6 separate regions of the Homo sapiens genome follow, and regions 2, 3, 4, 5 and 6 are each reported to be linked to region 1. Evidence: microRNA targets listed by miRTarBase, many of them from high-throughput screens and not tested one by one. Region 1 holds a microRNA gene; each other region holds the end of a gene's coding sequence. Distances are from middle to middle.

Region 1 (5,074 bases):
TGGGGTCCCAGCTCCAGCACTTGGAGGGGGGAGGGGTGCTGGAGCAGCGCTGCAGCCGGAATCCCAACCCTCACTGCACAAAGCTTTACACAGGACCAGGGAGCGCCCATTGCCCCCCACACATCTTGTTTCTTGTGAGCTGCTCCCATCGCGCTCCTCCCTGCCCTGCTTCCCAGTGGCGCTGCACAGAGGTGGGTGGGTCCATGGGGAAACCAAGGCTCGGGTTGGGAATCAGGGAACCCTCACCTTGCTAGGTTCCGCAGGCCTCTGGGGTTAGCAAAGGTCCCCCAGCCCTGCTCTGTGGCCCCTTCTGAGTGGGGGAGATCTGGGTACTGGGAACAGAGCAGAAGCTTTGTCCCGAGGGACCCTGGGGTCCTGGCTGCCCACGGACAGCTGGGGCAGCAGGCTGGTAAGAGACCAGGAGGGCGAGGCCCTGGAGGAGACAGGGCTGTGGAGACTCGGTGCTGATGCCACCCGGAGAGGCAGATGGGGCCCAGCCTGATGCTTCCTGGACCCGCCCCACCCTGCCCGGGCACAGTCCAGGGCTTCCTGCCCTTCGAACCGCACTTGTGATCAGTATTGACGGTGGTGGGATAATCATTAACCACCACCAGGGGCTGGGTCAACGGCTCAAAAGGCCCTGGGCCCAGGGTGTCCCCACTTCCTCCTTGTGCCCCGAAGGCCAGCCCGGCACTCAGGTAAGAGGCTTCCTGAGTGGTAGGACCCCTGCCGCCCTCCCTGTCCTAGGAGGCTCCTGAACCCAGGCACCTCTCTGAAGGGTGGCCAATCCTGAGGAAGAAAGGGACCTGGACAGCCATGGGGTGGCCGGGACGAGCCCCTTCCTCTCTGTGCCTTGGTTTCCACTGTGGGATAAGGGGGCCTTAGCATCAGCGCTCAGAGCTGTGGAGCCAGGATTCCTGATCGGGCGCTGTCTCTGCCAGGCCAGGGCACTTGGACACCACGCTGCAGGAGGCTGGTCTCGCCCAGGCCTCTGTGGGAAGGGCCGCCAGGCTGAGTGGAGGGCCAGCCACCAGCTACGGTGTCTTCCTTCGCAGGTCTGTCCCCCCAGGCAGAAGGATTCCAGCCCAGGGATCCCCCATCCCACCCTGACTGCATCCTGAGAAGGGGGGACGCCACTTCGGGAAGGTTGTTGGGGCAGCACAGGCCCTGGGGCCCTGCTCTGTGACCTTGGGCGGCCCCCTCTGTCTCTCTAGGCCTGTATGCACCACTGGCAAAGGGGGCAGGGCCCAAGTCTACTCTAAAAGCTCCCCTTTCTCTCCAGAAGCTTTGGAGTCTCCCAAAATGCCTGCTGGGTCTCTGCAGGACTGGCACCTGTCACCGGAACCTGTCTGGGAGGGACGAGAACACGCTTTGCAAGAGGAAGCTCTGCCTCACAGAGCCCTGGGCTCACTCAGGGACCCTGGCCAGCAGCTGCTTCCTCTCCCCACAGCGGAGAGAGACCCAAGGGTCCCAGGGCGGATGCTTCCCACCAGGCCAGCCCAGCGTGCAGGGTGGCCTCGTAAGTCCTGATTGACATATGGACAGTGGTTCAGAGAGGTTACGCTACTTGCTCAAGGTCACCCAGCTCCCAGGCCCCTGCTGTCTTCCAGGCCACTGAGGTCCTAAGCGTCCTTCCAGGCGAGCCACTGCTCACAGCCTGTTCCTCATGTTCTGCGGCAGGTTTGTGTATCTACATCTTTTCCAGTTCCCTGTCGTCCCCCTTCCTACACCTCGTCATCCACTATCCCTGTTTGTTTTCTCTGTTCCTTTCTAGTTCTCTACCTGCTCCTCTTATTTTTATTTGAGACAGGGTCTTTCTTTGTCACTGAGGCTGGAGTGCAGTGGCACAATCCCAGCTCACTGGAGCCTCGACCTCCCAGGCTCAAGTGATCCCCCGCCTCAGCCTCTTGAGTAGCTGGGACCACAGGCATGCATCACCACACCAGGCTAATTTTTTATTTTTTGTAGAGATGGGGTCTCACTGTGTTGCCCAGGCTGGTCTTGCACTCCTGGGCTCAAGAGATCCTCCCACCTTGGTCTCCCAAAGTGCTGGGATGCCAGGTGTGCACCGCCATCCTCGGCCTTACTCTTCTCTTCCTCTCTCAGCCCCTCTGCCTCACTATCCCTCTTTCTGTGCCCTCCCCCACACAGCCCCCCACACTTCTTCTTAGTCTCATCTTCAGCTTCCCATACGAGGCCATCCTCATGAAATCAGGCACTGGGAGGTCCCTGGGGACTGACAAGTGCCAGCTGTCCCTTGCTGTCTCTCTGCCCCATGGCTGCAGCAGGGAGGGTGGGCAAAGGGCAGAGGTGACAGTGGCCAAACCTGAAACTGAGGCCCAGCTCTGGTTGGGAAAGAAACAAGGAAACAAAATAACTTGGGGACAGAGGGCGTGGGGTCATCAGAGCGGGCAAAGGCTGCCCAGGAGTTGTAAATCCGAGCCGCTCCCGGCTTTATGAGGCCGATTTGGGGTTGAGCCTGGACTTTGCCCAGGAAGGAGTGCTGGCAGCACACGGGGCGCCAGGTGTGGGCCCCGGATGATAAGAAGCCTCGGTGAAAAGACCATGGACCTGGGGCCACGAAGACTGGGGAGCCCAGGTGAGTGGGCATGGGACACTCTCCAGAGCCCTGCCGAAGGCGGACGCCAGGCAGGGCCCCGGTCTCCAATTGGTTCCCGCCCCCTGTAACAGCAACTCCATGTGGAAGTGCCCACTGGTTCCAGTGGGGCTGCTGTTATCTGGGGCGAGGGCCAGTACCCACGAAGAAGGAGAGGCAGGTGCTGGCCAGCAGACCAGCCAGGACTACCGTGGCGACGCTCCCAGGCCAGATGGTGGCGGGTAGTGGAGGGCTGTCGGTGGGCTGCCGAGACCGAGTGCACAGGGCTCTGACCTATGAATTGACAGCCAGTGCTCTCGTCTCCCCTCTGGCTGCCAATTCCATAGGTCACAGGTATGTTCGCCTCAATGCCAGCCACCAGGACCTGCAGGGATAGGGGAGGGCCGGGGGTGTCCAGCAGTCAGCAGAGATCCTGCGACCCCAGTGCAGCACTCATGGTCCCACCTCCCTCTGTCTCATTCCCCGTGAATGAGCCTGAACAGCTTCAGTCCTGCCCCTGCCCTGCCTGCCCTGTGGCACCTCTATGCTTTGCCCATGCTGTTCCCTTGGGCTGCAATACTCTTCCTAGCTTATTTGCCAGGCTCACTCTTACTAACCCTTTCAAGCTCTGTCCAAGCATTTGCTGCCTCCAGAAGGCCTTATTGAAGCTTCTAAGTCCCCACCTGGGCACCCCCACACAGTGCTGCCGCAGAGCACTGCCCTCTCGGAGCCCCGGTGCTGGTTTCTGCTTATGTCTCGCTCCTCTCCCCATCTGTGAGCTCAGTTCCCAGCCCAGGCGCGTGCCCAATAAATGTTTGCTGAACCAATCCTGAGCCTCTGTCTTGCACCCTGAGGAAGCACCCACCGACATGCAGTGTGGCCAAGGGGGGCTGAGTGCTCTAGGCCCAGTGTTTGTGCTGGAGCCCCCCCACCCAGGATGGGGCCCTGAGCCAGCCTCCCCATCTGCTTCCTACTCTCCCCTCCTTTGCCAGTCTCATCTCCCTGGAGCACAGCCCTGTGGTTGGTGGAGCAGCTTCTCCAGCCCCTAGGATTCCTAAGAGGGCCCAGGACCCCAGCTGCTGGTAGAGGAAGAGCAGCCAACCCAGGACAGGACAGCTGACCCCACCCCTGTCCCGCCTCCCACAACAGCCTCATTTCCACCTATTTCTTTGTGGTGTTTGTTTGTTTGTTTTGAGACAGAGTCTTGCTCTGTTGCCCAGGCTGGAATGCAACAGGCTTCCTCCCAGGAGGAAGCCTCCCCTCCTGGCATGATCTCAGCTCACTGCAACCTCTGCCTCCTGGGTTCAAGCGATTCTCCTGCCTCAGCCTCCCAAATAGCTGAGATTACAGGCATGCACCACCATGCCCAGCTAATTTTTGTGTTTTTAGTAGAGACTGGGTTTCACCATGTTGGCCAGGCTGGTCTCGAACTCCTGACCTCAGATAATCTGCCCACCTCGGCCTCCCAGAGTGCCGGGATTATAGGTGTGAGCCACCGCGCCCAGCCCCACCTGTTTCTTATACAACGGGGTTCTGAGGAAATTTTCCTTTTTTTTTTTTTTTTTTTTTGAGACAGGGTCTTGCTCGCTTTGTCACCCAGGCTGGAGCGCAGTGGTACAATCACAGCTTGCTGCAGCCTCCACCTGCCAGGGCTCACACAGTCCTCCCATCTCAGCCTCCCAAATAGCTGTGACTACAGGCACGTGCCACCATGCCTGGTTAATTTTTGTATTTTTCGTAGAGATGGGGTTTCACCATGTTGCCCAGGCTGGTCTCAAATTCCTGGCCTCAAGCAGTCCTGCCTCAGCCCCCCAAACTGCTGGGATTACAGGCATGAGCCACTGTGCCCTGTCAGAATTTTTCATTTGAATAAAAAGGTTTCTGGTACTACAAAATAAAATTTGTAAAATGGGAAATAGAGACCTAGGAATAAATGTCAAATTGCTTAATAACAGGCGTTGGCTATTGAGCCCTTTCTGTCTGCTGGGCACGCACATCCAGGACCTGGTCCTCCTGGCATCCATCATGAACCTGTTTGGGACAGGAGGACACAGGCTCAGAGAGGGTGCACATTTGCTGAAGTCACAGAGCAAGTTGGACCTTCTCCTGGGGACTGTAGGCAGCCAACAAACATCTGGCCCCTAAGACACTGTCTCTCTCCCCTTCCCACAGGCAGCTCTGCTCACACTGTCCTGGCTGCTCTGAATCCCTGGGCCCCGATTGGCCCCTGCCGTGGCCCAGCTCAGCAACCCCTCCCTGCAGACCATCCCATGACTCTGCAGGCGCTGCTCCCCTCTCTGCCCACACCCCGGCTTCGTGGGCCTCTCCCGCCACCCTTATCTCATTCCCTACAGAGTTAAGGAGCCCTGTGTGCTTATCTAATCCTGTGCTAGTTTCAGACTCCTTGAGGGCAAGGTCCATGACTTACTCATCCTCCCTGGCTGCTTCCCCCACCCACCAGCATAGTAGGTGTTCAGG
Region 2 (5,074 bases), not on the chromosome of region 1:
ACATACAGGAGCCTTATTTCCTCTTTTGTAGGGCCAAACTCTACCTGATTTGGGGCCCTATCTTGTTTCTTCTCAAGAACCTTCTCTCTCCAGTTTAAGGCCAGCTTCTCCCTCAGTGGCTTCTGCGCCGAATTTTATTTAGTGCCTCTCATTCCCACACCACCCACCTCCTGCCCATGACTAGTTGATTGACTCCTTATCATTACTCTAAACTGTCCACATTTCTCCAGCCCCACTGCCACCTGGCTGCATAGAGCCACCTTCATTTCGACGCTGACACCTGGGATGGTCTCTTGGCTTCTCTGCTTATATCCTTAGCCTCTCTCCAATTCTCTTCTCACCAGCAGCCAAGTGACCTTGTCAAAACCTCACTAACTTGGATCATGTCACTGACCTGCTTTGGATTCTCCCCCAGTTTAAGTAAGCACCACGTGGTCTGTGAACCCTGTATGAGCTGGCTTATCACCAAGGCCAGCCTTCTCAAGCACCCTCCCCGGCCTCCTCAGACTTCAGCTTTCCCGCAGCAGGGCCTTTGCAGATGCTGTTGCTTCTGTGTGGTCCACGTTTTCTCAACCTTGGGACTACTGATGTTTTAGGCCAGTTGATTTTTGTAGGGGGTTGTCCTGTGAATATTGCATGTACAGCAGCAGCCTCTCTCTCCCCTGTCACTTTCCAATCAGTTTTAACAATCAAAAATATCCCCAGGCCTTGCCAAATGCCCCCCGCCCCCAAGGGTGACATCTCCCCTGGTTGAGAACAGCCAGCCTGGAGTGATCTTCCTCCCCTCTGCCTGTCAATCTCCATCCGGAAGCCACCTTCCCAGGGAGCACTTTCTTGACTCTCCAGGTTAGAGCAGGCCTCCCTCCTCAGCTACTATTCATGTGACTCTTTGATCATTTGTTTTCTCTCACTGGACTGTCCACTGCTGAGGGCAAGAGACCGTGTCCTCTTCCACCCACCTTAGTATTCAGACAGCCTAAGAAAGTATCTGGTACATAGCACTTAGTATGTGTTGAGTGAATGGGGAATAAAGGTATCTAAGGCCGGATCTGTGTACTCCCAACAGAGCCCCTCTTTCAAAAGTCCAAGCTATCACCTATGGAGGGTCTACTGGGCTCCCTACGTTATGGCTATGAGGGATCTTCTTATCACCACCGTACAGATGGGAAACTGGCGCCTGAGCAATGCTCAATGCCTTACGTATCATACTGCAGTGGGAGAGCCCCAGGTCCAAGTCTGGGTTTTCTCACCCCAAAGTCCAGGCTGGTTGGGTGTGAATATGGACATAGATGTCCAGTGCTTTGGTGGAGGGCTCAGTCTTCTGTTCCGATATTTTGTCAATAATTTGAAATAAAATGTGAAGAATGGCCTGGCACAGTGGCTCACGCCTGTAATCCCAGCACTGTGAGACCAGGGCAGGTGGGTCAGTTGAGCCCAGGAGTTCAAGACCAGCCTGGGCAATGTGGCAAAACCCTGTCTCTACAAAAAATATAAAAATTATCCAGGCATGGTGGTGCGTGCCTGTAGTCCCAGCTACTCAGCAGGCCGAGGTGGGAGAATCACTTGAACCCGGGAGGCAGAGGTTGCAGTGAGCCAAGATCACACCACTGCTCTCCAGCCTGGATGACAGAGTGAGACCCTGTCTCAAAAAAAAAAAAAAAAAAGAAAAAGAAAAAGAAAAAAAAAAGGAGAAAGAACATCTGTAAGCAATGTGACAGAATGAGAACCTCAAGGGGTCCTGTCAAGGCCTGTAGGCTACATCTGACAGGATGAACTCGGAGAGAAACAAATGTTAAGCCTGCATTTAAATTTGTAAAAATCCAAACAAGAACAGGGAAGAAGTGCTGCATTTTCACATGTGCTACATATGTTAAACCACCCAACAAACCAACACCCAGCTCCAAGCCTCTTTCCAGATTTGTTGATGTTCGCTATCAAGGAAGAGATGATGAGATTTCTCCAACTTGTGACTTCCCCATGTTTGTTTTGACACCTGCCTCCCAACTGTCATTAGCAATAAAAACATTAAAATAGTAAAAGACTCCAAATAAGAGAAGAACTGCGAGGCGGCCTTCCACTTCAGTCTTGTTTGAAAGGAAACCGAAGAAACAAAGAGGGTGGCTGCCTTAAGATGGAAAAAGAAGAAAAGGGAGCCAGTGTGTTATGCTTCCAAAATCTGCACAGATCAAAGACTTCCTGAAATATCAATCAAATTAATCACTGTGTTCCCTGGAAAGAAAACAGCTACGATGGAAATGCTGGAAGCTGAAGCAGTGAAGGCTGAGGGAATTTGTCGGTAGGCAGGGGTCCAGATTTGCACAACTTGATTTGGCACTAGTTTTAGAATCGGTAGGAAAAAAGAAGGATCCTGAAGGGGCTTTTGTAAGAAACATCATTTTGTGATTACTCTCAATAGACAAGTACTGTTTCAAAAAAAGAAGTTTGCTTTAAAAAAAAAATCAACAAAGCATATAATGCATCTATTGTATGACAAGTGAAGCACTATAGGAACATAAATAAGAGGAAGATGGTCTTAGCCACTAAAGAGAGCTATAAATTACTACTGTTGTTTTGGGACCATTTAAGAAATATTTGAAGGCTGGTTATGGTGGCTTATACCTGTAATCCCAGCACTTTGGGAAGACGAAGTGGGTGAATCACTTGAGGTCAGGAGTTCGAGACCAGCCTGACCAACGTGGTGAAACCCCGTCTCTACTAAAAATACAAAAATTAGCCGGGCATGTTGGTGCACGCCTGTAATCCCAGCTACTCGGGAGGCTGAGGCAGGAGGATCGCTTGAACCTGGGAGGCGGAGGTTGCAGTGAGCTGAGATGGTGCCACTGCACTCCAGCCTGGGAGACAGAGCAAGACTCCATCTCAAAAAAAAAAAAAGAAATATTTTAAACACAGCACTTTATTTCTTGATACATTTCAAACACCAGAAGTTACAATCACTGACTGAAACACTACACAGACCTGCCCCCAACACGTGAGTCCAGAGAATCACATTCCTCTCAGTGTGGATCTACTCGCTCTGTTCTCTGAACTTGGAAAACACTGTAGTGCCATTCTATGAAATGGTCCCCAAGTCACACAGAAGCCACATAAATGATGATTTGGTCAGTTTGATTTCATTTTAAGGTAAAGGAGGATACAAAGTTCACTACTTGAAAATAATTGATTAAGAAGGCAATATGACATTTTCATGCTAGTTTGTGTAGTAATTTTACTGCATAAGAAATTACAGAGATTGCATAAATCATTAGGTCAACAGCATACAGAGAAGAACAAAACAAAACATTGTTTGGATCAAATAAAAAACAGCAGGAACAACTCAATTCTTAAAAATACCACGAATTCCCCGAATGTGGCTCCATTTGATAGAAAATTTTGCATTTTCTGGATAATGTCTGTAGTTACATTAAGCAAAATGGAAAACGGCCTTCAGATAAACACACTAAAAAGCAGCTTACACAGATGTGTTGCCCTCTTCACCTTGGATGTAACAAAAATAAAGATGTGAGGCTGCCTGCTCTTGCCTAAAGCATGGCTTGAACTTTCAATTGATAGTAACCGCTTATGTAAAATATTACATTACATAATCTCCTGTGTATTGAAATTGCACAAGTCAGAGCATCCAAAAACTGCAAGAGTCAATTTCTTCCTATGGGGAAAAGCATATAGATATACTATGTTAAAACTTCCATTCCTCATTCGATTATTTGCCCTATTCAAAACATAAAAATACAAATAAATATTTCCTTACAAAGTTCACAGTATGTTGTTTTAAAAAAAAGAGATAAAAAAACTTAATTTGCTTTGTCATTAAATAAAAATGCTAATATATAGACATGTTCAATATTTATACAAATTGTAGGGGCCAGTGTATCCTTTCTTGGTCATAATTGAAGTTTAATAGTGCTAGTCCATACACGACAAGGCTCAGATCCCAAATGTAAGCTCAATTCTACTAAAAGTTGCTCAAGATAATTTTTTCTCTTTTTCTGTTTAATTAAAAAAGACATTTTTGGAATTTTAGAATTACATTTGAGTTGTCTGAAAAAATACAATTTCAATGAAAAATCATATCACGCATTCAAGAGTATATTGCTGGTGCTATAATCTTTTTGCATGTCTTTGTTTTCATAGAAAAAAATCAGTAAAATAACATGTCTAAGACTTTTAAATGGTTAAATGTAACCACATACTATTAATGATATGCCTCATGCACACACACACTCAAACTCAAAACATGAAGGAAACAGGATCAGACAGCTTTCTTTTGCATTAGTTCTAGCTTTCTTCTCAGCAGACCGTAATTCTCCTTAGTTCCTGATGCCGTGGGGTCAAGCTGCAAGGAGATTTCATAGTGTTTCTTGGCCAAGTCTAGATGTCCCCAACGATGATAAAGCACAGCTGAAATAGCAGGAGATAAATTTCACTGGGAATGCTTCTGAGTAACGTGCCGTATTCCTACCCTCTTGGACAAAGAAATATTACAGATCCTATGCAAACAGTTTTCAAAAGTCAATTGTATGAAACAATATTGTTTGTACTGAAAACTCTATTTATTGTAATCACACTCCCTGATGATTATCCATTTACTGCCAGTTACTCCTAGGGCTCTTCATAGCACTAGATAAGATACATCTGCCTATAGTAACATTATTACATAAAGAAGCAAAAAGAAGAGTACATGCAATGTCTTAGTGCTGCCATGAAATTTCCAGGAAGCAAGGCTGGGTATGGGAGGTGGGGGTGATGGATGCTAGGCACTGCCCAGAGCCCTGACTATGCAGAAGTTCAGCTGTTTATTTTAAATATTTCCTTACACCATTTGGGGAAGTAATAGCTTGTTTGGGTCCATTTAGAAAAAAGGCCTCTGATATCAAGAGCTGACCCTAAAATGATAGTTACAGTAAACCTAATCATTAGGATGATTAGCCTCTGATCATGACAGTGATTTTGTTAGTAAAATTAACTTTCTATATGGGCAGAAGAGCATCTGTGGACGCTTTTTGGCTTTTGTGAAGAGAAGCTTCAGAGTTGGTAGAGAACAGCTTTGGTGAAAAAA
Region 3 (5,074 bases), not on the chromosome of region 1:
GAGCCGAGATTGCGCCGCTGCAGTCCGCAGTCCCGCCTGGGCGACAGAGCGAGACTCCGTCTCAAAAAAAAAAAAAAAAAAAAAAAGAAATAAACAGGGTAGAGTGATATAGAGAATAATTGGGTGATGGGGGAATGGAATGGGGGACAGAACTATTGATCTGATCGCCCTTTCCCTCAGAACAGTCCAACCCCCAAAAGTAAAAATTGAACTTTTGAAAAAAGTAGACAGAAACAGTATAAGTTTAAATGTTAAAAGTCATATCAAGAAAGCAAATACAGAATTGCAGTTAATATTTACAAAGTCATTATGCAGACACACTATTACATGTAGACAGTTGTAGTTAAAACACCTTGGGTATTTCATTTCTAAAGCGAAGCTCCACAGGCACATTCTGTTTAAGGTTCTTTTCATTCTCTCAAAAGTTATAAGCAATGGAGTGTGTAAGTTGTTTTAATAATAGTTCAGTTCTTTATGTACATTGTAAAAATGTCAAGCGTGTTGATTCTTCAAAAAGTTGCATTTCACTTAGCAGAGAAAATAAAAATGTCCCATTTCTCCCGAGAAAAAGGATAACATTTTCTAATTGTGCAAACACTTTATGAAAGTATCACTTGACTCTATATTTTGACAGCTGCTTTGCATTTATTATTGGAGAGGCTCTTCATACGGCATGTTCCTTTTTTTTCCTTTTCTAGTCAAGAGGTGTTAATATTATTTTGGAATTTTTCAAATTTAAGAGAGTGGTAAAGGGTTGCTCTTCAGGGGTTCTTAATAAACAACCCCCTAACTTCTTACCCCTTTAAGAGGTTGTTTAGGGGGAAAAAAAAGAAAGAAAAATGGTTTTAGACTATGAGCTCCTTGTTTTGAGAATCAGTACCATTTAGCCTCATAGCATGCAAATTTCACATTTTGCCTGGCATGTAGCAGGTGCTCAGGAAGTGTTTGCTGAGTTGAACTGGTTTGAGAAAAGGCAAGGGATTACTATCCTTATTATTCAGATAGGGAAAGTGAGGCCCAAAGAACTCGAAGATGCATTTGTATTGTGCTTGGTACTTTAGTGAACGTCTCACCCAAGTTAGCTCATTTGAAAGTTGGTCCTCGCAACCATTACATGTAAAGTAGGAAAAGAGAAGAGTAATGATGTGTTTGACATATAGTGAGTTAGTCACTACTTGACTTCCCTCTATACAGCAAGTCAGTCTCTGCTGCTAAAGGAAATCTAAAACCTAATGATTAAAAATCTCAGGTTCTTGGACTTGGTGGAAGGAAGGTTATTCTTCCAAGGACAAAAAAAAAAAAAAAACCCAGAAAATCTATAGGAACATTTGGACTAAAAAAAGTCCTATCATACATAAAAATAAGGCTCACATACACTATTGGTGGTAATGTAAGTTGGTCCTACTTTTATGGAGAATTTATGGATATGTACCAAAATTAAAATGAATGTAACTTTGACCTAGCTTTGATCAAGAAATTTATGAATGTATTCACACTATAGACATACTAGCACAAGAGTGCAAAGATACATGAGGAAAAGGATTTAATGAATATATAAATGTTCACTGTGACATTGTTAGCAATAAGAAAACTTAAAACATTTTAGTGTTCAATAAATTGCTGGCCACACAAATTATAGGTTATGTGGGTAGTGATATTTTATGTAGACATTTGAAATAAAAGATTAATCTATGTATTGACATGAAAAGATGACCACAACATAACATGTCAAAACCAAGCTGCTTAATAGTGTGATTTCCTTTGAGTAAAATCACTCACCACAGTATTAGTGACTGCTACCTCTGGAAAGTGAGACAGGCTATCTCTTACTTTATTCACTTCCAAAGTACTTGATTTTTTTTAAATAAAATAGATTAGTTTTAAAATTCAAAAATTAAGAAGCAGCTGTTTAGTCCTGGCCACACACAAACTCTTTTGTTGTTTTTTTTTTTTTAAATCAAGAGTAAGTGGAACCCAGGAAATGATTAGCAATTGTTCTACTTCACCACAGTGTTTAGCACAGTGCTTGTGACATTGTTGGTGCTCAATAAATATTTTGAGGGAATGAGTGAGTAAGGATGAGTCAACTTGGGCACTCTAGTAAAGTGAGACGGAAGGACATAAGAACATTCAGATTTTCTAACCCTAAAATCCAAGCCAGTGAGTCAATGAAGACTTCGTGATGACCACATTGCTACGGTTGATTGATGTTAAAGAAAGACTGGCTACTCGCCAAAACATAATATGAGGGTCGTATTTGCACTGGAAAAGGATTCTTGCTAAGCCCTGACCATGCTTTTTTGAGCATCTCTTATGGCACCGACCTGATGGTTTAGAAGTCACGGAAGCTTTATGAAGAGGGAATCTGAGAGAGTGGCCAACTGGTTCAGTCCATTCACACACTGAACCTCCTCAGCAACATTCCCCAAGTAAGGAATTCAGATTGCTGGGATAGTGTTTCCATTTTCTCCTGGGGAATTCTTTTCTTATCAGCTCTAATTACTAGAAAGTTCCTTATGACACTGAACTAGAATCTGCCTTTTTATAAAATGTACCCATAGACAATGAATCTAAGCAGTTCTCCATAGTGGTTTAGAGAACAGCTTCTGGAATCACAGATCTGCCTTGAACCCTAGCTTCTACACATAGGTGCTTTGTGACCCTTAGGCAAAGATTACTAACTCTCTAAAACTAAGTTTTTTCTTTTAGAATTGGGGATAATTACAGTTCCTATTTCATGGAATGGTTTTAAGAAGATCATAAATAAATATATGCAAACTGCTCATCACCATGTATGGCACAAAATGCCCAATAAATAATATCATTACAATTGTTTAGGCCTTTTTCACTAGGTATTTGACAGAAACAGGGCGGCAAGTGGTACAAAACAGCAGTTAATGGATGAGGTGTCTCTTGTCAGTGGGCTGTGTGCCTGAGTACTTTGATTTCAGTGACTCAAGCACCTTCTTTGTTTTGCTCACTAGAAACGAATTAGAAAACTCTTCAAGCAGGGGGAGAGAAATTTCATACCATTAATTTGACAAAAACAAGAAGTTTGTACTTTCACAATTATAGACACTAACTTATAGAATACCTCATTCACCTCTGGGGGGTGCAAGGAAATAGCTCCCTCTGGGGCTTCTCTCAAAACTTGTCTCCCCGAAGCTTCCTAACATTCAAATGGCTGTCAGGCAAAACACAAGTCTTCCCTAGCCATCCTGAAACATTTCTCATGGCTAATGACTACCTATCAGTCTGGAGTTGACTTTATATTATTACTCAAGACATAAATCACAAATCCTAAATGGATTCAGGAATGTATAGTTGAGCACAATGTATATGTATATCTTTACCATATAAATCTGTATTATACACCATATGAAATTCAGTAGACTAGGAGACTTAAGATCTCAGTTTACTCAACTATAAAATGGCTACAATGAATGGTTCTTAGACTATGTTCTAAGGACCTCTAGGTCTGCACAGCAGTGCTGGGAGCTGCTCGACTTGGGCTTTAGGCTTCCATCTTGTTTCGAGTAGAGCAGTAATGTTTTAACAGATACCTCTCTTCTCATCAGCTCCCCTCAAACCATCCCTCTGGGAAGGGCAACCTAAGCAGGACAAACCATGCCTTTCACTTTAGAAAAACACGAGCTGCTGAAAGAAGTCTGCTGAAACAATATCACAAAGAGTGCGCCTACTTGGCGAAGGCTTGGGTGCAGAGAAGGGGGAAGGGTTTATAGGAGAAGAATAGTGGGGTTATAGAGGGGCCATGTTTGACCGAAGAGGTGCCTTCTGAATCTCTGTGGAATGCACAGCTGTGGAGCCAGCTGCATCAACACAATCACAGTGTCCTGCGTGATGGGCTGTGACCTCCCTCCGTGGAGACAGCAGGGTATGGGGGAAGGGGGACTGCTCATGGAATCAGAAGACTTAGGAGTGAGTCTCGGTGCTGGGACAGAGAGCTTCCTCTCTCTGAACTGCTATTTCCCTACTGAAAACCAAGAATAAACATACCCACCAGATCAGCTTCACGGGCATGTTGTATGGTTTAAAGACAATGGGGTCTACAAAGCATTTTGTAAATTAGAAAGCTCCACAAAGATACCAGCTGTATTCATCAGCCCATGAGATGTCTAAATGTGATCCTTAAATTCCAAAAAGCTTGCTAAGTTCACTTTCCTAATATATGAATATAAAACATTAGTGAATTATCAAATAAATGAGGTGTTTCATTATGTTCATATACTTTTTCAATATGTCAATTATAAAAACCATTGTATCTGAGACCCTATGAAGAACTACATATGAAATTACAAAGAAAGATCTAATTATATATGAAAAAGTATATATATTATAAAGTCTAATTATATGTGATTTCAAAAAATATAACTAGATTATTCTTAAGGAACTACTGTAGTGGCAATTGATTTTTTAAATGTATACAGAAATATCAAAAGTTTTACAAAAATACCCAAAGTCCAGAGTCTCCATTTCACACTTCAACAAGTAGTGCATGCTTTACTCCTATTTTAGACTGTTTCATCTCAGAATTGGATGTTATGCGTCTCTGCTCACATCATCCATGTAGCTCCACTTCCTAAGGAAAACCATCAACTTTTCTGGTTGGGGAGTTCTCTAGAGCAATCCTCTTCATTCTCCTCTGAGCGAGATAGATTCAGGACACTCATCACGGGATGGATCCAGGATGTAGTCTGTGTTACATGACTTGAGAAGAACAAGAATGCAATTAGAATCTGAAAGACTGTCCTTCTACTCATCCATGCAAGTACTGATCCTGGTGACATTGCTTCTACCCTAGTAAAGTCCCTGTGATAGGAAGCAGTTAGAACTAGATCCAATAGCTTTAATAAGTCTTAGACACATTTTAAGCTTCAATGAAAACCATTTCTTTCTTTCTTCTTTGGTTAAAAAGGAATGCAGGTGAATGCAGCATCTCTAACTCCTTTCGTTTCAGTATCTGACATTCAGTAAGTCAGCAAGTCCAATGACTGCCTTGCTGTAACATCTCTGGAATCTGTTTCTTGCTCTCCTTTTTCAATGAAATAGTCTG
Region 4 (5,074 bases), 700 kb from region 1:
CCGAAGCCACTCTGCGGCCATTGCCTTTGTCATCCTGCAGGGTGGAGACAGCTTTGCCTCCCTTTTGCGTTTGGGATTTTTCAGAATAACTGTAGCCAGTGCTTCCTGTTTATGAGTACTGTTCATCCAAATAATCCTTCGGGGGTCCTTCTGGGGGGTGTGTGGGAGGAGCAACACAAACACCCAGCAATTGGAGAAAACAGAAGAAAAGCGATAATGTGGTCTGGAGACTAGAGGATAGCTCTGCGGTCAGCCCTGCCCTCGGGAACTGCTGGGGAGGTGGGATGGGGTCAGGGAGTGGCCAGAGCCCTGGGCACTCTCTCCCTACGCCCCTTTTCCTGAACTGCCACCCCCCCGCCACCCACCCCCCGCCACCTTCCAGCATGGAGGAGCAGGACTTGGAGCGAAGGTTCGAGCTGCTGAGCCGCGAGCTGCGGGCCATGCTGGCCATCGAAGGTGGGACATGGGCTCAGGGGCCGGGAGGCAAGACAGAGCCAGGGTGGAGGCGGCACAGCCCTGGGCCCGCGCCTCCTGACGCTTAGCCGCTTCGACCCTCAGACTGGCAGAAAACGTCCGCTCAGCAGCACCGAGAGCAGCTCCTACTGGAGGAGCTGGTGTCGCTGGTGAACCAGCGCGATGAGCTAGTCCGGGACCTGGACCACAAGGAGCGGATGTGAGTGGCGCTGGGCGGCGCTGGGAGTTGGGAGGGTCCGGGACTTGCTCCCGCAGAGGGCTGCGTGTGGACCCCGCCCAACGGAGCGCTGACTCGAACCCGTTCTCCCCAGCGCCCTGGAGGAGGACGAGCGCCTGGAGCGCGGCCTGGAACAGCGGCGCCGCAAGCTGAGCCGGCAGTTGAGCCGGCGGGAGCGCTGCGTGCTGAGCTGAGGCCGCCGGCCCGGGTGGCCCATAACTTCTCGCGTCCCCGGCGTCCGCCGCCGCCCCGGGCCTGCGCTGCGGACGACCCGGCCGTCCCGGAGGCCGCGCGCGTGTCCGCTAGGGGCCGCCGGCGCCCTTCCCCGTACAGGGCAGGGCGGATCCCCGACCCCACGGGCGGGGCGGCCGCCGTATTTATTTGTCACCGAGGGTGTGTGCGCGCTCGCGGCGGGTGCGGGGTCCTCCCCGACGGCACGGCCGGGCCGGCGGCCTCGGGGAGAGGGATGCCTGGGCACTACCGCCCCGCGCTGGCTTGCCCTCCTGTTCTCCAGAGCAATAAAGTTGGACGAGACTACCCCAGCGCCGGCCTTTTCTCCGCTCCACCTGGGCTCTCAATAGGCGGAGGGGAGTGCGCCGAGGCTGAGGCGGGCGGCTCTGCCATCCTAAGCCGGAAGGTGCGGTTTCGAGGTTCCCAGGGCCAGCGGAGGCTGGACCTCGGCCTTCCCGGGATGGTGGCCGGTGGCTCAGGGAAGTCCCATTCGAAATAGTTGAAAATAGCCGAAGTCGTTGCTCATTTTATGATTAACAGTATCCTCTGAGGCCTCCCGCCCACCCTCACCGCGGCTCCATCTCCAGATTCTTCCCCAGCCACTCCTGGCTGCTTCCTCCTCAGGTGCCGCCACCTTACGGAGCTGAACTCGGTCACCTGACGCTTCAGCAAGCAGGGGCTTGTCCTGAAGCTGGGGCCGCGGGCGGCAGGGTGCTCAGAGCCAGTTCATCCTGCCCTAGGATGCCACCTTGGTCCTCAGCAGTCACAGGACCACTGGGTCTGAAGAACTTCCCCATGGCACGGACCTGCGGCAGCTCAGAGAAGGTCTCCACTGCCAGCAGCATGGCCAAGAGTCCTAGAAGCAAGTAACCTGGGGAGGAGAAGGTGCTGGGGCAGCGCCTGGGTTCTGGTGATGCTCCCCGCCCACCTCCCAGCGCAGTGACTTGCCCTGGCAACTGGCACCACTCACCCCCTTCTCAACGCTGCCACCAGAGCTCTTCGACTACCCCTCCCACGCCGTGCCCTGGAGTGAGGTCCCTCCACCTGCAAGGCCCAGCCCCCCAGTGATTTATGGGAGTCCTAGTCCAGGCTCCTCTTCCCCCTTCCCCCACACGCTGTTAGGTGGCTGGACTTACCAAGAAGTGCGAGCTGGCCCAGGTGGTAAATCACGGGGTGCAGGCTGCGGCCGCGGCCGGGCAGCAAGTCCTCCAGGCCAATGGTGCTGAGCGAGCTGAAGCAGAAGTAGACGGCCCCCAGCAGGCTGCAGTCGCCCTGAAGGCCCCACAGCACCAGCGCTGGCAGCAGCACAAAGCTGCTGGCCACCAGCAGTCCCAGTGCAACTGCCTGCAGCAGCGCAGCCCTGGCCGGTGACAGCTGCCAGTGGACCGCTACCCAGGCACGTGGGCGGCTGAGCACAGGCAGCAGGCAATGGCGCAGGGTGGCCACGAGAGCTAAGGAGGCTGGCAGCCCCAGGGCTGCATAGACCATGCAGAAGGCCTTTCCGCCTGGCGATAGTGGGGCCATGTGGCCATAACCTGGAGAAGAGAGAGTCAGTGGACAGTGAGAGCTCTGAGTGCCATGTCTGCTGGGGTCCCTGCCTACCCCAATACTGCCTTCCGCAGAAGGCTGCCCTCTGGTGGCCTTGAACTGGCCAGGCCCAGGTTCTAGCTGGCTCTGCTCCTCTTCGTCAGGGGATCCCTTACCCTCTCTAGGCCATTCTTTTCTTTTTTGGAAAATGAAAGGATGAAAGAAGACAGTTCCTCAGGCCTTTTGTAGCTGGGACAATTCTGAGAACTGCGCTGCCCTTAACAGATACTCCCGATTCCACAGCTGGTGGAATATCATCCACTCTTTCCCCAAATGTGTGTCATGTCCTGTGTGCCAGGCTTTGTACTGGGATCTGAATCAGCCCAGGCCCTGCCCCTTCTGGTGGGGGAGTCGGGCAGGCAAATCATGAAGGGCTGCAAAGAGGCAGCATGGGCGAGAGAGGGCATGTGCCAGGCGGGGAGGGGTGGGAGTGCGGGGTGTGCTGGGAGAACAGGATCAGCTAATACAGAGCTGCAAACGCACATGCCTACCGGAGCCAGATGGGAGACAAACAGGAGTGGTGGGGACAGGGGTACACTGGAAAGTGTGAGCTGTATCCAAAGGGCAGGCCCCATTCTGCTCCAGTCAGGATGTTGCCTTGCAGGGATTCTGGCTCAGTGTGAGTGGGTTTCCTGATTTTCCAAAAGAAGTTGGAAATATGAGCTGGGCACAGTGGCTCACACCTGTAATCCCAACACTTTGGGAGGCTGAGGCAGGTGGATCACTTGAGGTCAGGAGTTTGAGAACAGCCTGGCCAACATGGCAAAACCCCGTCTCTACTAAAAACACAAAAATTAGCCGGGCATGGTGGTGCATGCCTGTAGTCCCAGCTACTCAGGAGGCTGAGGCAGGAGAATTGCTAGAACCCGGGAGGTGGAGGTTGCAGTGAGCCAAGATCGCACCACCGCACCCCAGCCTGGGTGACAGGGTCAGACACCGTTTCAAAAAAAAAAAAAGTTGGAAATACAAATTCCAATTCAAAAAATACTGAGACACTTTGTGGGGCAAAAAATACGAAAACCCAGGGCTGTGGGTCTCATTGCTGCTTTTCCCTGGGCCTGTGCCCACGCGATTTCTCTGCAGGACTCCCTCATCCCTGTCTGTGCCCTCCTGATCCACAAGCATCTCATGCCGACTTCCTCCCCTATCTTCCCTCACTCCCCCACCCGAGGCCATGGTCCTGATCTGTCCTTCCCAGGTTCATTCTATTTGCTTCCATCCAAGAATCCATCCCACTGTATTGTATCCCCTATCTGGCCACAGGCTGTGGCATCTGGGCAGCTCTCCTGGGTCTCAAAGGGTGCCTGGGGTGGGACTGGGGAGGCCACACCCTTCCTGGCAGTTGAAGTGGAGGCACCAGTTGGGGTGTGTTGGTGGGGAGCCCCAGCTGTGATGTCAGGCCTCACAGGGCCTGGGCTCCATCTGGCTCTTTGGGGCTGAAGGAAGGGCTGCATGAACCCCAAAGCCCCCAGGGAGCCATGGCCTCTTGGAGCCGCACCCCCCGACTTGGCTGCCTGGCTCTCTTACCTGTGGTGGTGAGGATGCTGGCAGCGAAGAGCAGGGCTGAGGGAAGGTCCCAGGTCCTGCCCTCTGAGCTGTTGCCCAGGGTGGAGACCCCATGGGCCTGGGTGGCCAGGGCAGTGCCCAGCAGCTCTTCCAGAGCTCCGGGTGGCAGGCAGGCCCTATGCTCTGCCTGGAAGGCTGCCAGCTCTGCCCTGAGCTCAGCCTGAAGCCTGCATGCAGGAGGCCCCTCCAGGGCCTGGAACACCACAGCCCCAAGCCCCAGGGCCAGCAAGTGGGCCACAACCAGGAGCCCGTATCGGGACCAGGGCCTTAGACCCCCCATGGCAGGCCGCTGGGGTGCTGTGGGAACTGGCGGCTCCACCTCAGGCACCTGGGAGGGGCTGGGCAGGGCGGGGCCAGGAGGAGGTGCTGTGTGGGTGGCTGGGACCCGGCTGGGATGGCTGGGGTGGCTGGGGTGTGAACAGGAGGGAGGTGAGCTGCATCACCCTTCCCAGGTCCTGGAGGCAAGACATTTGCCCATTTCACAGCAGCTGGGATGGTGGGGATGGGTGGAGGAAGGCGGCTGCGGTGAGGGGAGGAGGCGGAGGAAGCTGAAGCCTAGAGAGGACCTCACACTTATTCAAGGTCCTGCTCACTCAGGCACCCATACCACATTCATTCATTCATTCATTCATTCAAGTGCTTAGGGAAGAGGACAGGCACAGGTCCTTTCCTTCCTGGTGTTTACACAAGAAACCTCTTAGCAAAGAAACATGGCAACCTCACATTGTCATGAGTTCCATGAAGGAAACACCCTGGGTGATGGGAGAGCTCTGCGGGGAGCGGGGGGGTTATCTCACTGGGAAAGCTCTGCTAAGGAGGTGATATTTCAGCTGGGGAGTAAGAGGCCAGTGAAGGTAGGAATGAGCTTGGGGTGTGAGAGGAACAGAGGGCTGGCTGTGGCAGGGGAGAGTTGGGGGTGAAGGGGGGATAAGGACACAGGCCCTTGAGGATAAATGTGGTCCAGGGAGACCTACGCTGGGCTACTGTAGGCGTCATGGA
Region 5 (5,074 bases), not on the chromosome of region 1:
AAGATTAAATAATGTCAATATGTCTGTTGTTATCAAATTAATAGTATGAGGGCTTGTTTAGTAAAAATGCTGAGAATACTTTTTGGATTTGGAAAAATACATACAAAGAATAGGTGGGAATAAATAAGATTCTGAAAAAGAAGACGAGGGAACCGATGAGAGAAAAACGTGGTGACAAAATGCTCTAACAAATATTAAAACAAAAACTGTAATAGTGAAATAGGTGAATGGGCACAGAAAACAGTATATTCTAGAAGTAGACCCTACTAGTAAAGAATAATGCAAGATTAAAAAAGGACTTCCCATAAATCATATTCAACTTATAAGTTTGGGATTTAACAATTTGGAAAAAAAAGCCTAAGTAATGTCTCATCTCATACCACATGCACTTATAAAAAAAATAAAACTGGAAATAGAAACAATGGTTATTATTGAGACTGATGTAAATTTTGAGGAGACAGTAGAGATTACAAACGTGGAGGCAAGTGCTGAAAGATCTGATTAAAGAAAAAAGCTGGCCAGAAATGGTCACGCCTATATAATCAGCACTTTGGGAGGCTGAGGTGGGAGGATTGCTTGAGCCCATGAGGTTGAGACCAAGCCTAGACAACACAGTGTGGACCCCCATCTCTACAAAAAAAGAATTGCAAAAGTTAGGTGGGTGCAGTAGTTGTACGCCTGTCATCCTAGCTACTTGGGATGCTGAGGTGGGAGGGTAGTTTGAGCCCAGGAGGTTGAGACCAGCCTAGACAACACAGTGTGGACCCCCATCTCTACAAAAAAAGAAATGCAAAAGTTAGGTGGGTGCAGTAGTTGTACGCCTGTCATCCTAGCTACTTGGGATGCTGAGGTGGGAGGGTAGTTTGAGCCCAGGAGGTTGAGGCTGTAATGAGCTGTCTGTCATCAGGCTTGGGCAGCAAAGCAAGACTCTTTAAAAAAACAAAAACAAAACCCCTGCTCTAACCAAAATAACTACAGCCAGAATGACAAAGTATTAGCACTACTCTATAATTCAAGGCTCATACAAATTGGGGGGGTTGGGGGAGGGAACCAACAACTACTAAGCAAATTCCATGAGTTTATTATATTGGCACATTGAGGTTCTATGTAAGTAATTTTGGCAAGTTTGCTGTGGTAGTTACAGGTTTGGATTTTTAGGTTAATATCTTTTATCTGAAGATGAAGATATGCATATCTGCAGTAAAAAGAAACCAACAGAAACTAAGGCAAAGACCAAACTGATCAACTTTGGTCATTAGATGCTTTTCTATAAATATGTATATTATTCAGTAATACAATGAAAAGTAAAAAAATTTTGGCTACTTTAGGAGGCAACGTATATATGTCTTCTGGCCTGTAGTGTTTACTGTAAGTTGATCAAAGGTAAATTAAAAATTCACACTTGAGTAAAAGGTTTCAAGAAGTACCAGGAAAGTGTGCAGCTTATTTTTATTTATTTTAAAAAAATTATTTTTATTTTTCCAGGAGGCCCATTGTCACCAGAAGTGTATAGTTTCTAACAGATTTATACATTGGAAGTTGATTTTGCTCCTAATTTCAACATGCCTAATGAAATAAATAATCAAAACAGTCTAAAATTCTTCCTCCTCTCTGCCTCCTGCAAAAAGGTAAGCACCTAAAGTAGGCAAGCACTGAATAAATGACTCTGGTCAGCACTGACAAATTAATTGCCTCTAGGAGGCTGAGGCAGGAGGATCACTTGAGGCCAGGAGGCTGAGACCAACCTAGGGAACATAGTGTAGAATCCTGTCTCTACAAAATAAAAAATAAGTAAAAAATAAAAAATTAGCTGGGTGCAATGACTATGAATGAAAGCAAAATACAGACCTTTAGAAAATATTTTTATTTTCTTAACACACAGAGGTAACAATGACATTTGCCCACTAGACACAGTAGTTCAAGACATATCAGAAATGGATCACAATTCACATGTTACAATATTCATCAATATGACCAGTCTCATGTTTTCCCAATTATCTTTGAAAACTTATTAAAATACCACAGCATACTAAACTGGTAAATTCATTTATCATGTTAAAGAGTAATTTTGATTTTGATTAGTGAAAAACCAAGGCATAGTCCATTGTTGAAATACAATACCTTATCCAGCATCACTCAAGTATGAAGCATTCTACCGAAACGTTTAGTCAAATGACACCTGTTAAAAATCTAATTCTGTATTTTAACTACCATAGAGGAAATAATGTTTAACATGCCTTCTTAAACTTTAAAATATACCACGCAGAATATAACAATGTTCTTTCATTAATCTTCCTCATTAGAAATATGAACCACTTAGTTTTCTAGTGCAACACAATATCCTAAAAATTTACCAACGTGGGTATCTGCCTTACTAGAGATAACCCCAAATGGCTACATTAAAAAAATTGTGAACTTTTAATTTTTTTGGTCACATTTAACTGTCAGCGATTACTTCTTGCTTTGATTAAATATGCTGGTTTTCTGTTACCTTTCCTACCTCCCTGAATATCAAAGTTAGGGTACAGCAACAAAACTACATAAACCTTTGATAAACTAATGGTTCTCTCAAGGACAGTCATTCCTTTTACCCGCACAGTTTAGAGAAGGGTATATATTGAACAAGGAAGGAACTGAAGAAGAAAGGGAGATTTGGAAACCAATGTCCAATGTATTTATAGATAGTGGTCAGATTACTGTCACAACTGTCCTTAAATTTGTAGGATTTAATCTATTTTAGTTTTGGAAACCAGAAAACTAAGCTAGTTAAAACTATTTCTAAAGCAAGGTCAGCTTTGAAGAAGAGCAGGCAGATAATCTTAAAGTAAATTACACGAGCTTTCAAGCATGGGTATTTGACATCTGAAGCATTTATATATTTTTGCTGCCCAGAAGTTTTAGTTTGCTGGTTTTCTTCTTTAATTTCTTAGTCATAGTTAAGGTTTTGGGTATGTAACCTGTAAACTAACTAAAAAAATGCTACTTTGAAAGTAGCATTATTTTAAAATACCATTATTTTATTAGGTATAAATGAGCCACTGAATATTATATAGCAATGAAAGAATTCTTGCCACTACTTTCTTCCAACTGAATGCATAATGATTTAACTGTTTTCTTAAGAAAACAGTAAAAAACAGTAAAAAATTCTATCTAGGAAATAAGTTCTATGAAAAAATGTTAACTCATGTAAATGTTAAAAACCTTTTTCCTTTTGTGACTTTAAGATTTTTAAGGCATCTTAAAATAAGTTATCATGAAAAACTTCCAGTGATTTTATTGAATTTAAGATATCTACTGAATTCATATCCATATTTTTGTTAAGATTCTTCTCAATGTTAAACTTGTCAATGTAGGTTTTGAGTTAATAGAAAACCAGTATCTACTATGATCTAGCAATAGATTTTTGAACATGACTAAAGATAGTTGAGTTTTAGAAAACTAATATAACATTCTTTTTTCTTTAAAGTTCTAGAAATATGACCGACAATTTCCATTTTGAAAATGTAAGCTATCTTATAATACTCAATAGAACTCAATACTAATTTTACAAAACTGTTTTTAGGAAATAAATTTCCTAATGCTTTGCATGTTTCCTCACATAAGTAAATCATATAAAATATACTGTTGGCATTCATTACACAAAAATTAATATATCAGTGAAAAAATGAAAGCATAGTTTGAACATCTGTGCTCCATTTAGGAACATATATTGTAGATGGAAACTTCTATCATTCATCATTTATTAAATATTTATTAAATGCAGTGAGCACTGTATTAAGAATACTATAGTACGTGGTGTTAATATTAATGAACCACAGCGTATTCAGTATGTATTGTTACTGAAGATTATATATACCACAATTAAAAGCTATCTTTTCATTTCTTTCATTATTTTCATATTTTATTTTCATTTCTGTACAAATAGAAGATGACATGATTTTTCTTTTCCAAACTATGGATTTCTAGGCATTTGAATAATTCTTACTGAACTCAAACACATTTCATTGGTAATGATATTTCTTTCTGATTCAAATTGAAATCTACCTCTGTACATTAAAAAAAATCAATGCTTTTACAATCTTACCTAATTGAGCATCAATATTATAATAAATGAGATTTTTAAAACAACTTGAGCCTGTGCATATAAGGCATTTACATATGATGACCTTGCATCCTATAATACAAGTAATTGCATACTTAATATCTGTAATAAACTATAAATCATAAAGTGTCTCAAGAATAGTAGCAATTGACCAGGCTTGTGTTTCACAGCTGAAAGGACAGTACTGGGCATTCTCATTGGTCAGTTCTGGAAGTCCTTTCCAAGGGGATCTGAATGAAAGAAAAGACATTTTACAAAGACATAATTTAATTCATATTAACAAAATAGGCAAGACCTGGTGATTTTTGCCTTCTAGTGTAGAAAATAATCATATGTAGTCATTTGCTACAAAATAAAACAATATCCTAAAGACATACAAATGAATTTAGACTGAAATTATTCTTTGACATTCCATCTTTGGAATTTGAGACTTTTAAATACAAGGAATCCCTTTATGTATTAAAAACATAGAAGAAACTACCATTACAAGCTACATATAAACATAGAGATAAATACTCTCTCAGGCATAATTTTGTTTATGAGACTCAAATTGTAATTATGCAGATGTGTTATGTGTGATCTTGATAAAACTGTAAAAGTAAAAGTAATGAAGAAACACTAAGAACTATGATTAGGCGGAAAAATGGCATTCCAGAATACTTTCTACTTAAAGAAAAAAATGCCAATTAATTTCTCTTTCTACTGAATAATAAACTTGGTATTTATTATGCATTTATGTTCTAATACTGCTTTTATGTATATTATCTCATTTAATGTTCACAGTAACCCTGTAAGGAAGGTACCATAAGTATTCCTATCTATAGAGAGGTAAGAGAGATTTATAGAGGTTAAATAACTTGTTCCAGCCCTCCTTATCAGAACACAGTGATGTTAGCACATCAAATTTATTGTTAATTTCAATGTAATCCCTTAAAAATGAAAACAAATTCAAAAAGTACAGACATCTGTAAT
Region 6 (5,074 bases), not on the chromosome of region 1:
GTAGTGATTATTATCATATTGTCATTCTTTCGTTGAGCAAAATGTTAATTATAAGTTATTTTATTATAGAATGCATTCATTGTTATAAATTATATTTGTTGAATAAAAGCATAATCTGATTTTTTTTCCCTTGGCAGCAACTTGAGTTGGTGGAACCAAGTGGCTGGATTCATGTTCCCTTAACTGACAATCATAAGAAGCCAACTCGTACATTCATGATACAGATTGCTGTTCTAGCCAATCACCAGAATGGAAGAGACACCCATATGAGACAAATTAAAATATACACACCAGTAGAAGAGAGCTCCATTGGTAAATTTCCTAGATGTACAACTATAGATTTCATGATGTATCGTTCAATAAGGTGACTTTAAAATGAGACGAAAATCATTAAACGTATCTTTGTTTTATCCTGTATTTAAATAATATATCATGTACCTTTATTGAACAAGGCATCCGTTATATCTAATTTTGTATATGTTTAAAAATATTTTATTGTAACTTTGACAAATAAATTTGGGGTCATATTATCTTTATTTTCTTTAACATGTAATAAAGCTCACATATTTTACATTACTAAAAATGGATTTGAAGCCAATCATTTTATTTTCCCTTGTATCAAAAGAAAAGAGTTCCTTGTATCAAAAGAAAAGAGTTGAACTGAAAATTTCAGTATATACACAATTATAATAGCTAGGTGATTATTTCATTAGTGTTCATACATTAGAGTAATGGTTTATTGCATATTTGAGAACAAGACTGTGTTTTATCAATATATATCATCTTTAATAGGTCAAAATTACTATTTTTTCTACCCAGAGGAAGGTTATTCTTTTAATACTGGATCTTTTAAAAAACAGTGTCAAATAAGCTTAGTGTTAGGTTGTCTGATGAGAACCAATCTAATATGGGGAGTATAATTAATTGTCTCATATTCACCTTCACGGAATACTTACAGCCCTAGGGTTGTCTGTATCCTAATGATATTATGTAAAGATTGCCTGTATAATCTAGCAGTACTTATGGAAGAGTTCTAGCAGTACTTATGGAAGAGTTATTTTCAAATTTGTGTCTGACATTGTAGCATTCCCTGGGCAGTCATATATCCCATAAAATCGTAAAAGTATGTGAAATTTTTTATATATATTAAAAGATTTTAAAGAAATACATGGAAATGTGGTTTTTTCCATGGTTTAAAATGAGTAGATTTGATTTTGTATGCTGTTTTCTCTAGATGTATTACTTTTTTTCGGGGGATGGTTATTTAGCCACAGAATTTACCTAGATTCACTCTTGTTTGGAAAAGATTGCTCTCTGTGGTTCATGCATTGCTGGGTACACTAAAGTATTAAATAGTGAATATTATTTAAAAAATAGTGTGTTTGCTTTATTCTGGCAGAGAGTACTAATTTATTTGGATACTATAGAAAATGGTTTCACTTTTTCACTCATTAAAAACTCTGCTCTTCTTCCTGTAAGTTCTGGGAAGAATTGTATTATTACTTTCATTTTGTTGTCTTTGAAGTAAAAAGCATGATAGGCAATCTGTGGGATCACCAAAAAGTCTGTAGCCAAAACTTATTTGGAATCACCAAATTAAGCACATTATACTTGTCAGATGCTGGGTAGGGTAGAAGAGAGGATTGAAGGAGAAGACCAAGAATAAGGACTAAAGGAAATGGAGAGAATGAAGGAAATAAGAATAGAAATATACACTAGGCACTGATGTTTTCCTTTAGTCTGATAAGGAAAACAGTCAAGTAAACAACAGGGTCTTAGTCTTAGAGATAAAAGAAATCTAATTTTTTTAAAAGTACAGGAAGTTTTATTAATAATGTTACTTCTTACTGACTGCTTATTTATTAAGTTTGCTTAAAAGAAAAAAGGAGGAAGACTAATGATCACATATACTATCTAGTGTCTTATCTCCTACTATTTATTAATAGTTTGCCAAGAGACTCCTAAAATCAGGAGGTATTAGAAGGAGTTGAGAAAATCAATATGTTTTCTACTTTTATTCTCCTTACGTATTTTTCATATGCCAGCTGGCTATCTTATTAGGTGTGGGAAAACTTGGTAGCTGAGGATTATGAAGATAATGCTTCCCCTTAATAAGAAAAATTTAAAATACAGATAATGCATTATATTAACAAAGCATAATTATCTAAAACAGTTGCATTTTACTTTCTAAAGTGCAAATTATATATTTGACCAAGATTTATATTTAGAATATATAAAAATCCCTTACAACTCAACAGTAAGGAGAAAAATCCAATTTAAAAATGAGCAAAATATTTGAACAGTCACTTTACCAAGGAAGTTATATGATTGGCAAGTAATTGTACAAAAAGATGCTCAACTTCATTAGACACTAGTGAAGAGCAAATTAAAACCACAATGAGATACTACTACACAGCCACTAGAATGACTACAGTGAAAATGATTATTCCACGTGTTGACAACAATGTGGAGAAAATGCACTTCGCACTGCTGGTACAGGCATATCTCAGAGATGCTGCAGGTTCAATTCCAGACCACCACACAATGAAGTGAATACCACAGTAAAGTGACTATCACAATAAAGTGGGTCACAGAAACGTTTTGGTTTCCCAGTGCTTATAAAATTGTTTACACTGTTGTAGTCTAAAAAAAAACAATGTATGTATACCTTTATTTTAAAATACTATTGCTAAGTGCTAACAATAATCTGAAGCTTTAGCCAAGTTGTAACCTCTATGCAGGTGGAGAGTCTCATCTAGGTGTTGATGGCTGCTGACTTATCAGGGTGGTGGTTGTTGAATGCTGACAGGGCTGTGGCAATTTCTTAAAATAGGACAGCAATGAACTTTGCTTCATTGATAGACTTTTCACAAAAGATTTCTCTGTAGCATGTGATGCAGTTTGATAGCATTTTACTCACAATAGAACTTCTTTCAAAATTGGAGTCAATCCTCTCAAGTCCTGCTATTGCTTTATCAACTAAGTTGATATACTCTTCTAAGTCCTTTGTTGTCATTTCAACAATGTGCACAGTATCTTCACCAGGAATAGGTTCCATTTCAAAAAACCAATTTTATTCCTCATCCACGAGAAGCAGCTCTACAGTCATCCAAGTTTTATAAGATTGCAGCCATTCAGACACATTTTTAGGCTCCATTTCTAATTCTTGTTCTCTTGCTATTTCTACCACATGTGCCATTACTTTTTCCACTGAAGTCGTAAACCCCTCAATGTCATCCATGAAGGTTGAAATCAATTCCTTCCAAACTCCTGTTAAAGTTGCTATTTTGACCTTCTCCCTTAAATCATGAATGTTCTTACGGCATCTAGAGTGGTAAATCCTTTCCAGAAAGTTCTCCGTTTGTTTTGCTGAGATCCATCAGAAGAATCACTTACCTGCTAATGCCTTATGAAATGTATTTCTGAAACAATAAGACTTGAAAGTCAGAATGACTGCTTGGTTCATGGGCTACAGAATGGATGTTGTGTTAGCAGGCATGAAAACAACATAACTCTCCATCAGAGCTCTTGAGTGACCAGGTATATTGGCAATGATAAGTAATATTTTGAAAGAATCTTTTTTCCAAGCAGTGGATCTCAACAGAGGGCTTAAATCATGCAGTAAATTATGCTCTAAACAGTGGTACTGTCATCCAGGCTTTGTTGTTCCACAGGCAGAGCACAGGCAGAGTAGGTTTAGCATAATTCTTCAGGGCCCTAGGATTTTCAGAATGGTAAATAAGCATTGGCTTCAACTTAAAGTCACCAGCTGCATTAGCTGCTAACAAGAGTTATTCTCTTCCTTGAAACTTTGAAGCCAGGCATTGACTTTCCTCTAGCTATGAAAATCCAAGGTGGCATCATCTTCCAATAGAAGGTTGTTCATCTACATGGAAAAATCTATTGTTTAGTGTAGCCACCTTCATCCCTTATGTTCTAGATTGGGGTGTTCAATCTTTTGGCTTTCCTGGGTCACATTGGAAGAACAATAATTGTCTTGGACCTCGCATAGAATACACTAACGATAGCTGATGAGCTAAAAAAAAAAAAAAAAAAAAAATTCCTGGCCGGGCATGGTAGCTCACTCCTCTAATCCCAGCACTTTGGGATGCCGAGGCGGGTGGATCACAAGGTCAGGAGATCGAGACCATCCTGCTAACATGGTGAAACCCCATCTCTACTAAAAACATAAAAAATTAGCCGGGCGTGGTGGCGGGTGCCTGTAGTCCCAGCTACTTGGGAGGCTGAGGCAGGAGAATGGTGTGAACGCAGGAGACGGAGCTTGCAGTGAGCCGAGATCGCGACACTGCACTCCAACCTGGGTGACAGAATGAGACTCGTCTCAAAAAAAAAAAAATGCAAAAAAACTCTTTGTGTTTTAAGAAAGTTTACAAATTTTTATTGAGCTGCATTCAAAGCCATCCTGGGCCATATGCAGCCTGTGGCCTGCGAATTGGACAAGCTTGTTCTAGATCTTCTGGATAACTTGCTGCAGCTTCTCCACCAGCACTTCCTGCTTCACCTTGCTCTTAGCAAATCTTTACCATTAGGTTGATGCCTCCTTTTTGTCTCTGTGGTTCCTTAAGCCCAGGTTCTCCTCTGCTCTACTAAATTATTAGAGTGCTGCCTGTCTTGAATGGGGGAATTCCCAAAAGGATTATTCTGGCAGTGTGGGAAGGCAGGTAGTGGTTTGTGCCCAAGGGACCTGTGGAACATAACAGCATGGTGCTGCTGAACAGCCACTCTGATGTGGCATCTCCTTTGGCTGAGTTACAGAGCAGAGTTTCCAGGGCTGGGGATGGTAGTCCTACCTCCCTAGTTTGTCTCTGCTTGTCCTCACAGATATTTATACCTTCAGGCAGTCATGATGCTTCCTGTGTGTTAAGGCAGGTACAGGTCTCTTGCAAGGGAATCCAAGATGATGGGAAAGCTGATTGACTACTGATATGGTTTGGATGTTTTTTACCTCCAAATTTCATGTTGAAACATAATCCCCAGTGTTGGAGGTGGAGCCTGGTGGGAGGTATTTGGATCATGGGGGCGGATTCCTCAGGAATGGCTTGGTGCCATCCCG

What was found. Region 1 holds the annotated microRNA hsa-miR-192-5p (CUGACCUAUGAAUUGACAGCC, at 2,886-2,906, shown strand). A microRNA usually pairs through its seed, bases 2 to 8, with sites in the 3' UTR of a target mRNA and lowers its output. Matches are read on the target gene's strand: a 7mer-m8 pairs with bases 2 to 8, a 7mer-A1 pairs with bases 2 to 7 and ends in A, and an 8mer does both.
Region 2: miRTarBase lists TMTC4 as a target of hsa-miR-192-5p. The part of its 3' UTR that is shown has no 7-base or 8-base seed match.
Region 3: the mRNA of STXBP4 is a reported target of hsa-miR-192-5p. Seed matches in the 3' UTR shown: 8mer at 1,455-1,462.
Region 4: miRTarBase lists EHBP1L1 as a target of hsa-miR-192-5p. The part of its 3' UTR that is shown has no 7-base or 8-base seed match.
Region 5: the mRNA of AGL is a reported target of hsa-miR-192-5p. The part of its 3' UTR that is shown has no 7-base or 8-base seed match.
Region 6: miRTarBase lists ANAPC10 as a target of hsa-miR-192-5p. Seed matches in the 3' UTR shown: 8mer at 790-797.

Annotation. Positions count from the first base shown.
Region 1 is chr11:64,889,035-64,894,108 of GRCh38, reverse strand. It overlaps MIR192 (microRNA 192), which reads left to right and starts at 2,863; the gene lies at 2,863-2,972. MIR194-2HG (MIR194-2 host gene) reads left to right here and starts at 660. Exons shown (of 3, transcript NR_133640.1): 1 at 660-698; 2 at 1,283-1,519; 3 at 4,769-5,074. It overlaps MIR194-2 (microRNA 194-2), which reads left to right and starts at 2,670; the gene lies at 2,670-2,754.
Region 2 is chr13:100,600,727-100,605,800 of GRCh38, forward strand. TMTC4 (transmembrane O-mannosyltransferase targeting cadherins 4) reads right to left here. Exons shown (of 19, transcript NM_032813.5): 19 at 2,899-4,416. The coding sequence ends at 4,268. Among named protein-coding and RNA genes, the nearest start is that of GGACT, 14 kb to the left of the region's middle.
Region 3 is chr17:55,159,451-55,164,524 of GRCh38, reverse strand. It overlaps STXBP4 (syntaxin binding protein 4), which reads right to left. Exons shown (of 18, transcript NM_178509.6): 18 at 1-4,728. The coding sequence ends at 4,614. Among named protein-coding and RNA genes, the nearest start is that of HLF, 100 kb to the left of the region's middle.
Region 4 is chr11:65,591,418-65,596,491 of GRCh38, forward strand. It overlaps EHBP1L1 (EH domain binding protein 1 like 1), which reads left to right. Exons shown (of 19, transcript NM_001099409.3): 17 at 383-456; 18 at 559-673; 19 at 786-1,233. The coding sequence ends at 885. KCNK7 (potassium two pore domain channel subfamily K member 7) reads right to left here and starts at 4,383. Exons shown (of 3, transcript NM_033347.2): 1 at 4,037-4,383; 2 at 2,059-2,457; 3 at 1,419-1,793. The coding sequence starts at 4,355. The coding sequence ends at 1,588.
Region 5 is chr1:99,920,792-99,925,865 of GRCh38, reverse strand. AGL (amylo-alpha-1,6-glucosidase and 4-alpha-glucanotransferase) reads right to left here. Exons shown (of 34, transcript NM_000642.3): 34 at 1,846-4,332. The coding sequence ends at 4,215. It overlaps LOC124904230 (a long non-coding RNA gene), which reads left to right. Exons shown (of 7, transcript XR_007066251.1): 6 at 1,486-1,628. Among named protein-coding and RNA genes, the nearest start is that of SLC35A3, 47 kb to the left of the region's middle.
Region 6 is chr4:144,990,667-144,995,740 of GRCh38, reverse strand. ANAPC10 (anaphase promoting complex subunit 10) reads left to right here. Exons shown (of 5, transcript NM_001256706.2): 5 at 138-1,165. The coding sequence ends at 368. Among named protein-coding and RNA genes, the nearest start is that of ANAPC10, 100 kb to the left of the region's middle.